Homo sapiens: one gene and its partners. The protein of the gene in region 1 purifies or fractionates together with the protein of each later gene. This does not show direct contact. Each region holds a gene or a part of one and is shown in the gene's direction. Other genes may lie near its edges.

Region 1 (3,500 bases):
GTTTCCCAAAGTGTCCATGTCACTGTCACAAGAGGATCAAGGAGAGGACCTTGTTTTCTTTCCCCACTCACACCCTACACCACCATAGGCCCAGCGAGACAGACACACTCAGGAGCTCTTACATAACAAATGAAGAAATGGAATGAAGAAATGAATGATCCAAAACCTCTTTAGAGACTGAATTTGCATGCAGAATCCTAGGAGGTTCTAGCCACACCTGTCCCTTGTCCTTCAGAGGCTGACACCCACGTTTCATCCCCCCACTACCTCTTGACCCTAAAGCAACCCCACCTCATGTAACTCTGAAGCTCTTTGGCCACCGGAGGGTTCTCAGGGCTCCTTGGTCCTGGACTGTGGAACTGGGGGCACCTGGTCCCTGGGGTCTCTGAAGTCAGTGTAGCCCTCACTGCTCACTGCCATGGTGTCTCTGCCTCTCTCTGCTTCTCTGTGTCCCTCATCTTCCTCCCACTTCATTCTGACTGGCAAGCCCTGTCCTGCACAGCTTCTTCCCCCACCCCTAGGTCTTCCCCAGACACTCCCTCTAACTAGGCTGACTGTTCAGTTCCCTTCCCGCTAACACTGTGGCCTGGCCCACCTCCCAGGAAATAGGAAAGGTGCAGAAATCACCTGGAGTTGCCACTCCTGCCAGGCTTCCTCTAGAGCCAATGTCCCCAGGTCACTAAGAGAATGAGTTTCCACTGTATTCCCATCCAGGGCTCTTTCCCTTTGTGAGGCTGACCTGTGGACAAGACCATGGGACAGGGATAGGCAGTTTCTCCATCCACTCTTATAATTGCCAGACAAGTTCTTCTGGCCTCCTGCACACACACACACACACACACACACACACACACACACACACACACACAAATGTATTGAAATGGTGGTTTGTAGTAAAGAAAGATTTTAATGACTCCAAGTCTGCCAAACAGGAGGATGGAGGTTTATTATTACTCAAATCAGCCTCCCCAGTGGATCAGGGCTTAGAGATTTTCAAGGATAGTTTCAGGGGCACAGGACTAAAAAATGAGTACTGCTGATTGGTGATGGAATCATGCGGGCGGAGGGAAATGATCTGTTTGTGCTTGAATCCACCTCTAGGTAGGGACCACATGACGGGCTGAGCCATTAGTCATAGGTATGGATGAGGTCAGCCGGTTGCCAGAATGCAAAAGAATGAGAAACATCTCAAAAGACCAATCTCACGTTCTACAATAGTGATGTTATCTATAGGAGCAATTAGTTACAAATTTTGTAAACTCTGGCCCAACGACATTTGAGCAGTCAAGGATTATAAAAACTCTGCCAACATTTTAGCAGAATTCAGTTCCCTCCTATAATCTTAATCTCATGGTCTTTCACTAGTTTTACAAAGGCAGTCCCTGGGCAAAGTAAGGGTGTTACTTTTACAGAGGAACAATTATCATTCTTGCTTCAAAGTTAAACAATAAACTAAATTCCTCCCAAGGTTAGCCTGGCCTATGCCCAGGAATGAGTGAGGACAGCCAGCCTGAGACTAGATACCAGATGGACTCAGCCATGCTAGTTTGCTGTCACTGTTGTAATCTTAGCACTGACTCACCAGAGTGTCAGAGGCTGGACAGGCCTGCAGTCCCCAAACCCCATGGGCTCATTTCACCCATTTCACTTGTGACTCCATCCTCAACCTGCTATAAAGCTCACATTCTCCGGTCACTTCCTAGAGACTTCTGGCTTCCTGTCAGGCATATAACAAGCTTGAAATTTGTTCCTCGGTTCTAACACTAAGTAAAAAGCTGAACAAACTCAAAAGTCAACAACTCATTAAAATCCCTCAGAGATGGCTGGGCACAGTGGCTCATGCCTATAATCCCAGGACTTTGGGAGGCCGAGGCAGGCACAAGGTCAGGAGATGGAGACCATCCTGGCTAACATGGTGAAACCCCGTCTCTACTAAAAATACAAAAAATTAGCTGGACGTGGTGGCAGGCGCTTGTAGTCCCAGCTATTTGGGAGGCCAAGCCAGGAGAATGGCATGAACCCAGGAGGTGGAGCTTGCAGTGAGATGAGATCATGCCACTGCACTCCAGCCTAGGTGACAGAGCGAGACTCTGTCTCAGAAAAAAAAAAATGTTTTTAGAGACATGAAGAATGCTTTTGATACTTACTGGTAGACTGAACATAGCTGAGGAAAGAATCCCTAGCTTGAGGATATGTCAATAGAAACTTCCAAAACTGAAACAGGAAAGTTCAACAAGAGTGGGGAAAAAAAGTGGAACAACATTTCAACTTCATATTTAATATTTTGATTTGACAATAGCAATTTTTAAATTTTGTAGCTGTGGGACAACTACAAAGGCTATAAGATACACGTAATGGGAATACTGGTGGTTTTGGGGACCAGGTGGAGGTGGCCAGGTGGGTGCTATCTGATGGCTTTACTGCCTGTGCCACATACAACTGTTTCCTCATGATGATGCCGTTTTCATAAGTTGGAGTTCTGCGTGTGGGGAGACACACAAACCATTGGCATCTCACTTAGACTCTTTCTAATTCACACAAACTTAAACACTAGTGGTGTTTCCTGAGCTTAAGAGAAAATGAAGAAAGCATTTCACATACCTGTTTTGGGGTCCTCCCCATTTTTCCTAACTCTGCACAGAAATTAGAAGCAGGTTCTTTCTATATTTACTAACATAACACACATCACTTCTTTTAGTTTGGCATCCTTCCTCCCTTTATGCAATTGACACACTAACCAGTTCTGTCCTTTTAACGGGACTCTCTCTACTTAAGGAGTTGCTAATTTCAAATCACCTTTGGCATCTTTCTTTGAGCATAATGTGATCCTGCTGGAATTCACGGCACACCTAAACCTTATTTTGGTCTCAAGAGAAATACTACTACCAGCAATTGATCTTAGATGTTTGGATCATCAGTAAAAATTTCCACTTATGAAAACATTTCAATGTTTCCTCCAAATTTTTTGCTGTTGTTGTTACTAGAGTCAGAACATAAGGTCTAAACTCCTGACAAATTTTTATGGGAAAATTACAGTATTACAAATTGAGCATCGGAAATCCAGAAATCCACAATCTGAAATGCTCCAAAACTCAACCCTTCTGACCACTGATGTGATGCTAAAAAGAAGTGCTCACTGGCGCATTGTGGATTTTAAATTTTTCAGATTTGGGATGCTAAACCAGTACATGTACTGTAAATATTCCAAAATAAAAAAAATTAGAAATCCAAAACACTTGGTTTTAAGCTTTCTGAATAAGGAGCACTTTATCTGTATGAACTATAGGCATGAAGCTGTACAGGAGATCTCTAGAACCTCCTCATCCTGCATAACTGAAACCGCACACCCACAGAACAACGCCCTATTCCCCTGATCCCAGCTCCTGGAAACTACTATTCTACACTCTGATTCACTCTGGAATCCACTGATATCAGGTACATAGAGTAGTCAAATTCAGAATCAGAGAGTAGAATGTCTAATGAGAGAAAGTATCTGCAAG
Region 2 (3,500 bases), on another chromosome or scaffold:
TCACTCTTGTTGCCCAGGCTAGAATGCAATGGCACGATCTTGGCTCACTGCAACCCCCACCTCCTGGGTTCAAGAGATTCTATAGCCTGCGCCTCCCGAGTAGCTGGGATTATAGGCACCTGCCACCACACTTGGCTAATTTTTTGTGTTTTTAGTAGAGACGGGGTTTCTCCATGTGTGCCAGGCTGGTCTCAAAACTCCTGACCTCAAGTGATCCACCTGCCTTGGCCTCCCAAAGTGCTGGATTACAGATGTGCACCACCACACCCAGCCCTTTTTTTAAGTTCTTAATCTTACAATTCAGATATAGTTCCAGGTCTTTAAAATCCTGTCCGTCACCAGAAAGCCTCTAAACACTACACTAAAAACAGAATGTCATTCTGTTGGCAAAACACATTCTAGTGTAGAAGAAAATAAATTTTCTCAAAGGTGTATGCTATTAGTAGGCTAGTGTATATCAATTCTTACTACTCTAGTCCTTCACACAAAATATCTTCTGTGTTGAAGTTGAGAGAAATTAGAATGAATCTTGTTTTTCATAGACAACTCTTGGTTATTCGTGGATCACTGGAATATATGTATTTCTTTAAAGTATTTTGTTAATTATGCTTTCATCATTAGTTGCTATACTACAGAATTTGACAGTTTTCTTCTACCTTGCCCATTTTGAGTGGAGATACTGAGAATTAAAATGTACCAAAGTCAGGGAGCCAGAGAGATATTTTTTAAAGCATTTAACCTGTGTATAAACTAGATAAGTCCTAGTGAACTTATAACTTTTTTTTTTTTGGTTAAAACTATATCAAGTAAAATGTCGATGTATAAGTTAAGATGATAGTCACTGATGTTGACGTTTGCCAGTAAGCTTTTAAGATACAAAATACTGGAATATATTGATACTCAATAAATGATGATAGTGGTGGTGATTGTTAGAAAGTTAATCTTGCTACTTTTTCTGGACATTTTATGTTAATAGAATTATAGTATGTAATCTTTTGTTTCTAGCTCTTTGTGTAACATTTTTGAAGTTCTTCGTATTGCAGGATATATCAGTATTTTGTTCCTTTTTATTGTTGAATAATATTCCATTTTAAGGATATGCCACATATTGTTTCCATTCATCAGTTGATGGACATTTGGGTTGTTTCCCATGTTTGCCTATTATGAATAATGCTGCTGTGAACATTCACATACAAATTTTTGTGTAGACATATGTTTTTATTTCTCTTGAGTAGATTCCTAGGAGTGGAACCACTGGGTTGTATGGTAAGTTTATATTTATGTTTTTAAGAAATTACCAAGCTGTTTTTCAAAATTGTACCATTTTACTTTATCATCAGAAATATGTGAGGCTTCCCGTTTCTTAGTATCCTCACCAACCATTGTTACTGTCTTTTTTAGTATACCCATTTTAGTGGTTGTTAAGTAGTAGTTCATTTTGGTTTTAATTTGCATTTGCCTGATGACTTAATTGATTTTCAAACTTGCTGGTTGTACATGCTAAGTGTTTAGTGTTCCTAATGGAAGTAACTTTCTGATAATCCTTTATTTTTATACCCATTGCCTTCCAAAAGCAGATTCAAAACAGCAAGGACAATTTTTCAATGACATGGTACCTCAGAATGTTAGAAGCATTATGTTTCCAGCTTCACAACTTTATCTCGGTTGAAAATGTGATTCTGAAGTATAATATGCTTAAAATATACATTTAGTACTTTTTACTCAGCTAATCTAAATGTATGCTTTTATTTAGCACATGACTACTTTGAGTATGTATATGAAATTGTTAGGAACTTTTCATCAACTCTTTATCACTCTAGAAATTACTGCCAGTTTATATATGGGTATGTGTTTATTTAAACCAATTATCATAATTTGTGATTATTTCATTGAAATTATAAAAGTCATATATTATCAGATAATGATAAATAATAAAACGAACTAGTTAATTTTAAAACTAATTTTATCTCATAAACCAACAATAAGGCAACCTCTTAGTCTTAGTCTAGATCTGTGTGCGAGCTTTTTTTTTTTTTTTTTTTTTTTTTTTTTTTTTTTTTTTTTTTTTTTTTTTTTTTTTTTTGAGACAGAGTTTCACTCTTGTTGCCCAGGCTGGAGTGCAATGGCGTGATCTCGGCTCACCGCAACTTCTGCCTCCTGGGTTCAAGTGATTCTCCTGCCTCAGCCTCCGTAGTAGCTGGGATTACAGGCATGTGCCACCACGTCTGGCTAGTTTTAGTATTTTTAGTAGAGACGGGGTTTCTCCATGTTGGTCAGGCTGGTCTCGAACTCCCAACCTCAGGTGATCCGCCCACCTTGGCCTCCCAAAGTGCTGGGTTACAGGCGTGAGCCACCGTGCCCGGCCTGTGTGCTAGCTTTGTAAGAGAAGAAACCTATTTGAACATAAGATTTAAACATCCACTTTCTTTTTCATGAACCTACCACTCTTAAAAGTTAATACTTGCATGCCCTCTGATAGGGGATTACATTGTGTCCTTATATCAGCATACTTAGCGTATGTTAAAAATGAAGATGTGATCTGTTTTGACATGAATAACATTATTATATGGAAAAAAGGTAAACTGAGAATTCCAAAATTAAACAACATATGTTGTCTGTATATGTGTAATATTTTGATTTTTCTTATTAGAAACATACACACACACATACATATATATATATGTTCATTTTTTTAAAGGTTTGGAAGGCCATACACAAACATCTTAACCATAATGTACTCTGAGTGATGAAATTATGGGTGCTTTCATATTATTTATACTATTGAGTATTTTCTGAAATATTTTTTGAAGCAACATGTATTACCTTTATAAATAGAAAAGTTTTTCTTTAAATAAGTTTATTGAAGTCACAAGTTGATTAAAACATATTTAAAATAACAAAACTTTTATGTCTAAAAACAGGTTCTAAATTTTAAAGCCTCAAAATAAAGGGTTGCATAAAATTAAAGAGAGGGCAAGTAGGCTCAAGCCTTGATTTGTTGTGTGTGTGTGTGTGTGTGTGTGTGTTTTTTTAACTAAAGAAGTGAATTTGCTAATCTAACTTCCATTGATTAATTACCACGATTTGACAAAATTATACACATTGTACTTTTTTCTTATGAAGTCTTAAATATATCTCATATCAGAAATCAAAATAATTGGAAGTATGATTAGTGAAGGAAAAATCTCTTTGATCTAAAACCAACAGATTTCACATTTTAAACTTCCATTTGTACTCTAAGTAACTTTAGTCTCTCAATTAACTGCTGCCTTATGTAGCATTAGTACATGGTTACCCAGCTGCTGTAATCACCATGTAATCAGCAACTTTCTATTTTTATGACTTAGTTTTTTCAGAGTTGTGCCAATGAATATGTAAAGAAATAAGGCAAGAATATAAACTTTATTGTTTAAAATATTTTGAGTGCCATTAAAACTACAATGAATGAGGTAATTTCCAGATTGAAAAGAATTAAATTGAAAATAAAAATACTCCGGATG
Region 3 (2,477 bases), on another chromosome or scaffold:
CACACACACTCCAGCCAAGTTAAATACATTTTTATGTAAGATTCTAAATCCTGTGCATACTTATTTGTATACATATTTGATTTTTTTCTGTAGAATATGTACCTAGAAGTGGAATTCCTGGCTCGAAGAATGTATTTTAAATATTAGTGATATTCCAGGCTGATATTCAAAATGCCCATACAAATTTGGTTTTCAGTAACTGAATGCATGTACCCGTTACTCCATATCCTTGACATAATAGATACTATAAAACTGGTAACATTTTGTCAGTCTGTGGGGTAAAAAATGTTAATCCTAAAATGTTTAATTGGAATTTTATGAAAATAGTCATCAACCACCATCTTTATATATTTACCAGCCATTTACTGTTTTCTTTTCTATAAATTGCTTTCATATTCCTAGGCCCATTTGCCTATGGGTTTTGTCTCTTTCTTACTCATTTGTAGGACCTCTATATATTCTAGATGTTAATAGTTCATCTAATATATTGCAACTATTTTCTTCAGTCTATTGCTTATCAGATTTTTTATGTTTTGTCATATTAAAATGAAGGATATTTACATAATAAAATTTGTTAGTTTTTTTATTTATGGCTTCTGAATTTCTTTTTTTTGAGACGGAGTCTTGCTCTGTTGCCCAGGCTGGAGTGCAGTGGTGTGATCTTGGCTCACTGCAACCTCCGCCTTCTGGGTTCAAATATTCTCCTGCTTCAGCCTCCCAGGTAGCTGTGATTACAGGCATCCGCCACCATGCCCAACTAATTTTTGTGTTTTTAGTAGAGACGGGGTTTCACCATGTTGACCAGGCTGGTCTCAAACTCCTGACCTCAGGTGATCTGCCCGCCTTGGCCTCCCAAAGTGCTGGGAATTACAGGTATGAGCCACCACACTCAGCCTGCTTCTGAGTTTTATGTCTAGTTTTCTATAGCTCAAGATTAAAAATAAAAACTCTTACCTTATACCATGCATAAATCAAAGAGCTAAACATAAAAATTAATGCTATAACTAACTACATTAGAAGAAAATGCAGTTGCCTTATTAGGCTTTTTTGATTTACCTATTTTCCTGGAATATCAGTTTGTCTTTAAATAGCTAAGAATCTGACTTATATGCTGTCAATACACACAGTTAGTAATACAGCATGAAAATCCTAACATGCTTTTCTATACTTTAGCCGTGATCATTTTCATTTGAAGTCCTAAATTACAAACTGATTTAAAAGCTATATATATATATATATATATATATATATATATATATGCCACATCCATGAAACCTTCCTTAATCAAATCTCAAGCTTCACTTTTCTCCCTTCAAGCTCCCTGAATACAACATTCTTCCTATGAGATAATTGTAGTCTACTATCTATTACAGTAAATTTCCAATGCATTTTATCTCACTGATTAGATTATAAACTCAACGTGGGGATCGTGTCTTGTTTTTATATCCTATATTGATTGCCAAAGATAATGATTTGTTTTGTATAAAAGTGAATGAATAAAGTAACACATTTGCTTTATTTCAGCTTCTTTGCCCAAAATGCAGTGCCAAGTTGGGTTCCTTCAACTGGTATGGTGAACAGTGCTCTTGTGGTAGGTGGATAACACCTGCTTTTCAAATACATAAGAATAGAGTGGATGAAATGAAAATATTGCCTGTTTTGGGATCACAAACAGGAAAAATATGAACATGATATTTTATAGCTTGGGAAGAAACTTGCAGATGATATGTGCTGCCTTTGCTTCTTATCATTCATGGCAGATTGTTTGTGCTTTCAACATTTCATTTGAAATGGGAGAAGATAAAATCACTTGATGTAACCTGGAAACTATGCTTTACATGGCAATCAAAGCCTTTTGATCATGTACATTTTATTTGATATTAAAATCTTTTATAACCAGATACTGTCTGTGTTTCATATATTTTTAAAAGTTTTGATTGTTGGAATGTTATATGATCTTAAGGTCTGTATAGACAAAATTATGTACAAAAATTTGAAACTATTATATTTAAATGGGTATTCTTTTATTTCCAGACACATAAAGCAGATTTGTTTGGACATATTTTGGAATTATTTCACTTTCTTTCTTTTAAGGGACATTAGTAAACCCATACATGTCTGGATTTTTTTCTTGGAAATGGAAAGGCCATTAGTAAAACGCTGATTAAAAGGCAATTTTCCTATTACTGTTCAGTAATCCCAATTATCTATATTTTTAGAAAAGTGTTTGAGATCCCTTTTGAAGTGATCTACATAAAGAAATACATAAATGTTAGATGTGTTTCTAATGATGAAGAAAACAAATGTAGAGTTACTATATATCAAGTCATTTTGTAGCCCAATATGTGAGTATTGGAAAAGGTAATACGTCCAGATTAGTTTTTTAACCTGATGTATAGAAACTAGAATTATTTTACTCATTATTAATAATTACAATTGGACCTAATTAGATATTTGAACATTTACAAGAATCAGAA
Region 4 (3,500 bases), on another chromosome or scaffold:
CTATGGATAAAAAAGGGACAAACTATGGATACACACAGCTACCCTGGATGAATCTCCAGAGAATTATACTGAGTGAAAAGACCAATCCCAAAAGGTTCCTGTATGTGCTGTATGGCTCCATTTATACAACATTCTTGAAATGACAGAATTAAAGAAGTGGAAGACTAGGTAGTGTTTTCTAGGTGTTAAGGAGAGACTGGCATGGGAGGGAAGCAGGAATAGCTAAAAAGGGCAACATATGAGAGATTTTTCATGGTGATGGAAATGTTCTGTATCTTGACTATATCAATGTCAGTATCCTGGTTGTGATGTTGTACTATAGTTTGGCAAGATGTTACCATTGGGGGAAACTGGATAAAGGGTGCACAGGATCACTCTGTGTTATTTCTTACAACTGCATATGAATTTATAATTATCTCAAAAAGTTTAATTTAAAAAAGTCTTTAGTCCTCTTCACCCATTGGACAATCGTTAAATATGTGCTCTGATTTGTATTCACTTTATGACTTCTTAGGGAAGCTATTAACAGAGTCTAGTGAGTAAGGTCTAACTGAGGTCTTGGAAGTTTTCTTGGCAGGTTTCTAGTAATTTAGTCTAATGAATTTGTATAATATTATTATGAAATCATACAAATCTGTAATTTGTTCAAGTGTATTTTCTTATGGGCCATTGTAATATCCAAAGAAAATGGCAGGCTGGTTGCGGTGGCTCACGCCTGTAATCCCAGCACTTTGGGAGGCCAAGGTGGGTGGATCACCTGAGGTCAGGAGTTCAAGACCTGCCTAGCCAACATGGTGAAACCTCATCTCCACTAAAAATACAAAAATTACCCAGGCATGGTGGCACATGGCTGTAGTCCCAGCTACTGGGGAGGCTGAGGCAGGATAATTGCTTGAACGCGGAGGCCTCTGCAGGTGAGTCGAGATTGCACCACTGCACTCCGGCACCAGCGACAGAGTGAGACTCTGTCTCAAAAATAAAAAAAGAAAAAATTGCAGAAGCATTGTCCTTCTTGTGGATTTAAGAGAACATTAGGATTATTTGGGGGCATGACCATATGAACTATAATTCCATCTCTAGATGAAAAACAAAATTTTTTCTTTTTCCCTAATGTGAGCTCTACCACATCCAGAATAACCCACTTGCACCATTTTAATTAACATTGAAAATTAAAGCCAAATCATACATTAGAGACAGGCTCTAGTCGTTAAAGACTCAGCTCTAGAGGTCAGGACAAGAGAGGAAAAATATTAGGCTTTGGGTGAATACATAATATTTGTTTAAGGAAATCAAGGTAAGTGGCTCCGTGATATGAAGTTCGTCTAAATTGATACTGTGGTATCACAAAAGAAGTAGGAAATGAGGAGCGTAGATGTTTTGTGTGTTATCATGTCTTCGTGATATTTACTGACCCTCGTGTGGGACTGGTCCTCAGGTACAGTTTGTCAGCTATTGTCATCAGTTCCAGCCTAGCACTGATAGCCTTTATGATACAACCTGACTTACATATTGTAAATGGAGCTTTGTAAAATACCATTAATTATTTCCCTATATAAATTTGTTCACAGGGATTTGATAACAATGAACAAGGATGATCGGTAAAAAGTTAACCTGTATTTCACCCTGACCAGGAATTTGGGATTTGGACTTGATAGCATGGTATCTGGCACATTGCAGGCACACAGTGAATGTTTGTTTCATGAACTAATATTGCTATTTTTGTGGTCCTTACTGCCTGCCCATGACCCTGCTTCCACGGTCCTTCCAGAGAAGAGCTGAGTGGGCAGACAGGGTGCCCTCGTAGTCTCTCTCAGTGCAGAGAAGTGCAGCCTGGGTGGGGGAGCAGCGTCAGGCTATGTAAAGAAGACTACAGATAGACTTGGGCCAGCTTTTATTTCACACTGAAAAGACAAGGAAGGGAACAGATTTAAAGAGATTTAAGTACCAGCATTCAAGGTAGATTAGAAATACTTTTTCTTAAATGTATCCTGTTTGGTTTAAATATAAGTATTGGCTTTTTAAACTTATTTTTTCCCACTATGAATAGTATTTTATTTATAAAAATGCTTTTGTGGACTAATCTGGGATCTAGCCTCCATTTATAATGTGAAAAATATGCATTCTGAATTCCAAGTAATGACTGAGAGTGAATTTTCGGAGCCCAATTTGTTCTTTAGTGATGGCACATAATTTGATTCTTATTCTTTTATCTTTCTGTCTTGCTTTCTTGTTTGTGGGCCACAGAGCAGCTTCTATTAAGCCCTTCTTTGCTTCCTTTTCACTACTTTGTTACTCGTCAGATATTTTTCTGGCCTCACAAGTTGATGCCTCACCTACAGATTTTCTAGAGAATTTCTTCAGGCTCAGTAACCTGTCTGTATTTAATAGAACAGTGAGTTCTTTTTCTCACCACACTTCTATTATAACTTAATTTTCTATTTACTGTAGATCCTTGCCAGCACATTACAGAATATTTTTGTTGAACCTTCTTGAGAATTCAGAGAAACTGCTGAGTGACCACTGAACGAAAAGATCTAATCTTAAGGCTTACGTGAGTATTTACTACTGTGGACTTCCTCACAAGATGTGAAACCTTCAGTGAACTGCTTTAGGACAGATTCAGTTCTGTGATCAAGATGAAAAATAACTATCATTGGGCTTATTAAATGTGGGATTAAGTTTAGTAGTTGCTCAGGGACACAGAGAAACTGACAAAATACACACTTGTTCTCACCTGAAAAATAGACACAGAGACTTGTATTTCTTGCTGAGCCAACACTCAGAAGTATCCTAGTCTGCAAACCACAAGAATTCTTACTGTGTCTGAATCAAAAACACCAACTAGATTTTTTAAATTATCTATTTTTAAAAATTTAACCAAAACACATTACCTTTTGAAAAGCACTTGATATGTGGCATTTCATTTTGAAAAAGGTTTATGATAGCTTTTCCATTTTTATGATTCAATACTGTGCAAGCTTGTCCAACCTGCAGCCCAGAACAGCTTTGAATGTAGCCCAACACAAATTCATAAACTTTTAAAAAACATTCTGAGATTTTTTTTGCAATTTTTTAAAGCTTATCAGCTATCATTATGTATTTTATGTGTAGCCCAAGACAATTCTTCTTCCATTGTGACCCAGGGAAGCCGAAATGTTGGACACCCTTGCTGTAAGGGAAAATATTTAGATTACCCTCGCAAAAGAATTCTTGACTATTTTATTGAGTAAATTCTTCTCATTGAGTTTTTCTGTTTGTTGGTTTGGTTTGGTTTGGTTTGGTTTGTTTTTTTGAGACAGGCCTCACTTTGATGCCCAGGCTGGAGTGCTGTGGCTCAATCACAGCTCATCGCAACCTCGACCTCCCGGGCTCAAGTGATCCTCTCACCTCAGCGTCCCGAACAGGTGGGACGAAAGGCGCGCGCCACCATGCCTGGCTAATTTTAAAATATTTTATAGAGACAGGGTCTCTCGCTATGTTGCCCAGGCTAGTTTCGAACT

What was found. Proteins that work in one complex are often made in the same cells at the same time.
Region 2: the proteins of PSG3 (region 1) and NGLY1 purify together in Homo sapiens (co-immunoprecipitation; one large-scale study listed by IntAct). This does not show direct contact.
Region 3: the proteins of PSG3 (region 1) and DUSP12 purify together in Homo sapiens (co-immunoprecipitation; one large-scale study listed by IntAct). This does not show direct contact.
Region 4: the proteins of PSG3 (region 1) and ANKRD46 purify together in Homo sapiens (affinity purification with mass spectrometry; 3 studies listed by BioGRID and IntAct, with this or other methods). This does not show direct contact.

Annotation. Positions count from the first base shown.
Region 1 is NC_000019.10:42,733,982-42,737,481, reverse strand, and holds part of PSG3 (pregnancy-specific beta-1-glycoprotein 3 precursor), read left to right. Parts: intron 1-3,500.
Region 2 is NC_000003.12:25,759,444-25,762,943, reverse strand, and holds part of NGLY1 (peptide-N(4)-(N-acetyl-beta-glucosaminyl)asparagine amidase), read left to right. Parts: intron 1-3,500. UniProt on the Homo sapiens protein: Specifically deglycosylates the denatured form of N-linked glycoproteins in the cytoplasm and assists their proteasome-mediated degradation. Cleaves the beta-aspartyl-glucosamine (GlcNAc) of the glycan and the amide side chain of Asn, converting Asn to Asp.
Region 3 is NC_000001.11:161,755,262-161,757,738, forward strand, and holds the end of DUSP12 (dual specificity protein phosphatase 12), read left to right. Parts: intron 1-1,524; coding exon 1,525-1,686; 3' UTR 1,687-1,977; downstream 1,978-2,477. UniProt on the Homo sapiens protein: Dual specificity phosphatase; can dephosphorylate both phosphotyrosine and phosphoserine or phosphothreonine residues. Can dephosphorylate glucokinase (in vitro).
Region 4 is NC_000008.11:100,532,260-100,535,759, reverse strand, and holds part of ANKRD46 (ankyrin repeat domain-containing protein 46), read left to right. Parts: intron 1-2,448; 5' UTR 2,449-2,551; intron 2,552-3,299; exon of another isoform or gene 3,300-3,404; intron 3,405-3,500.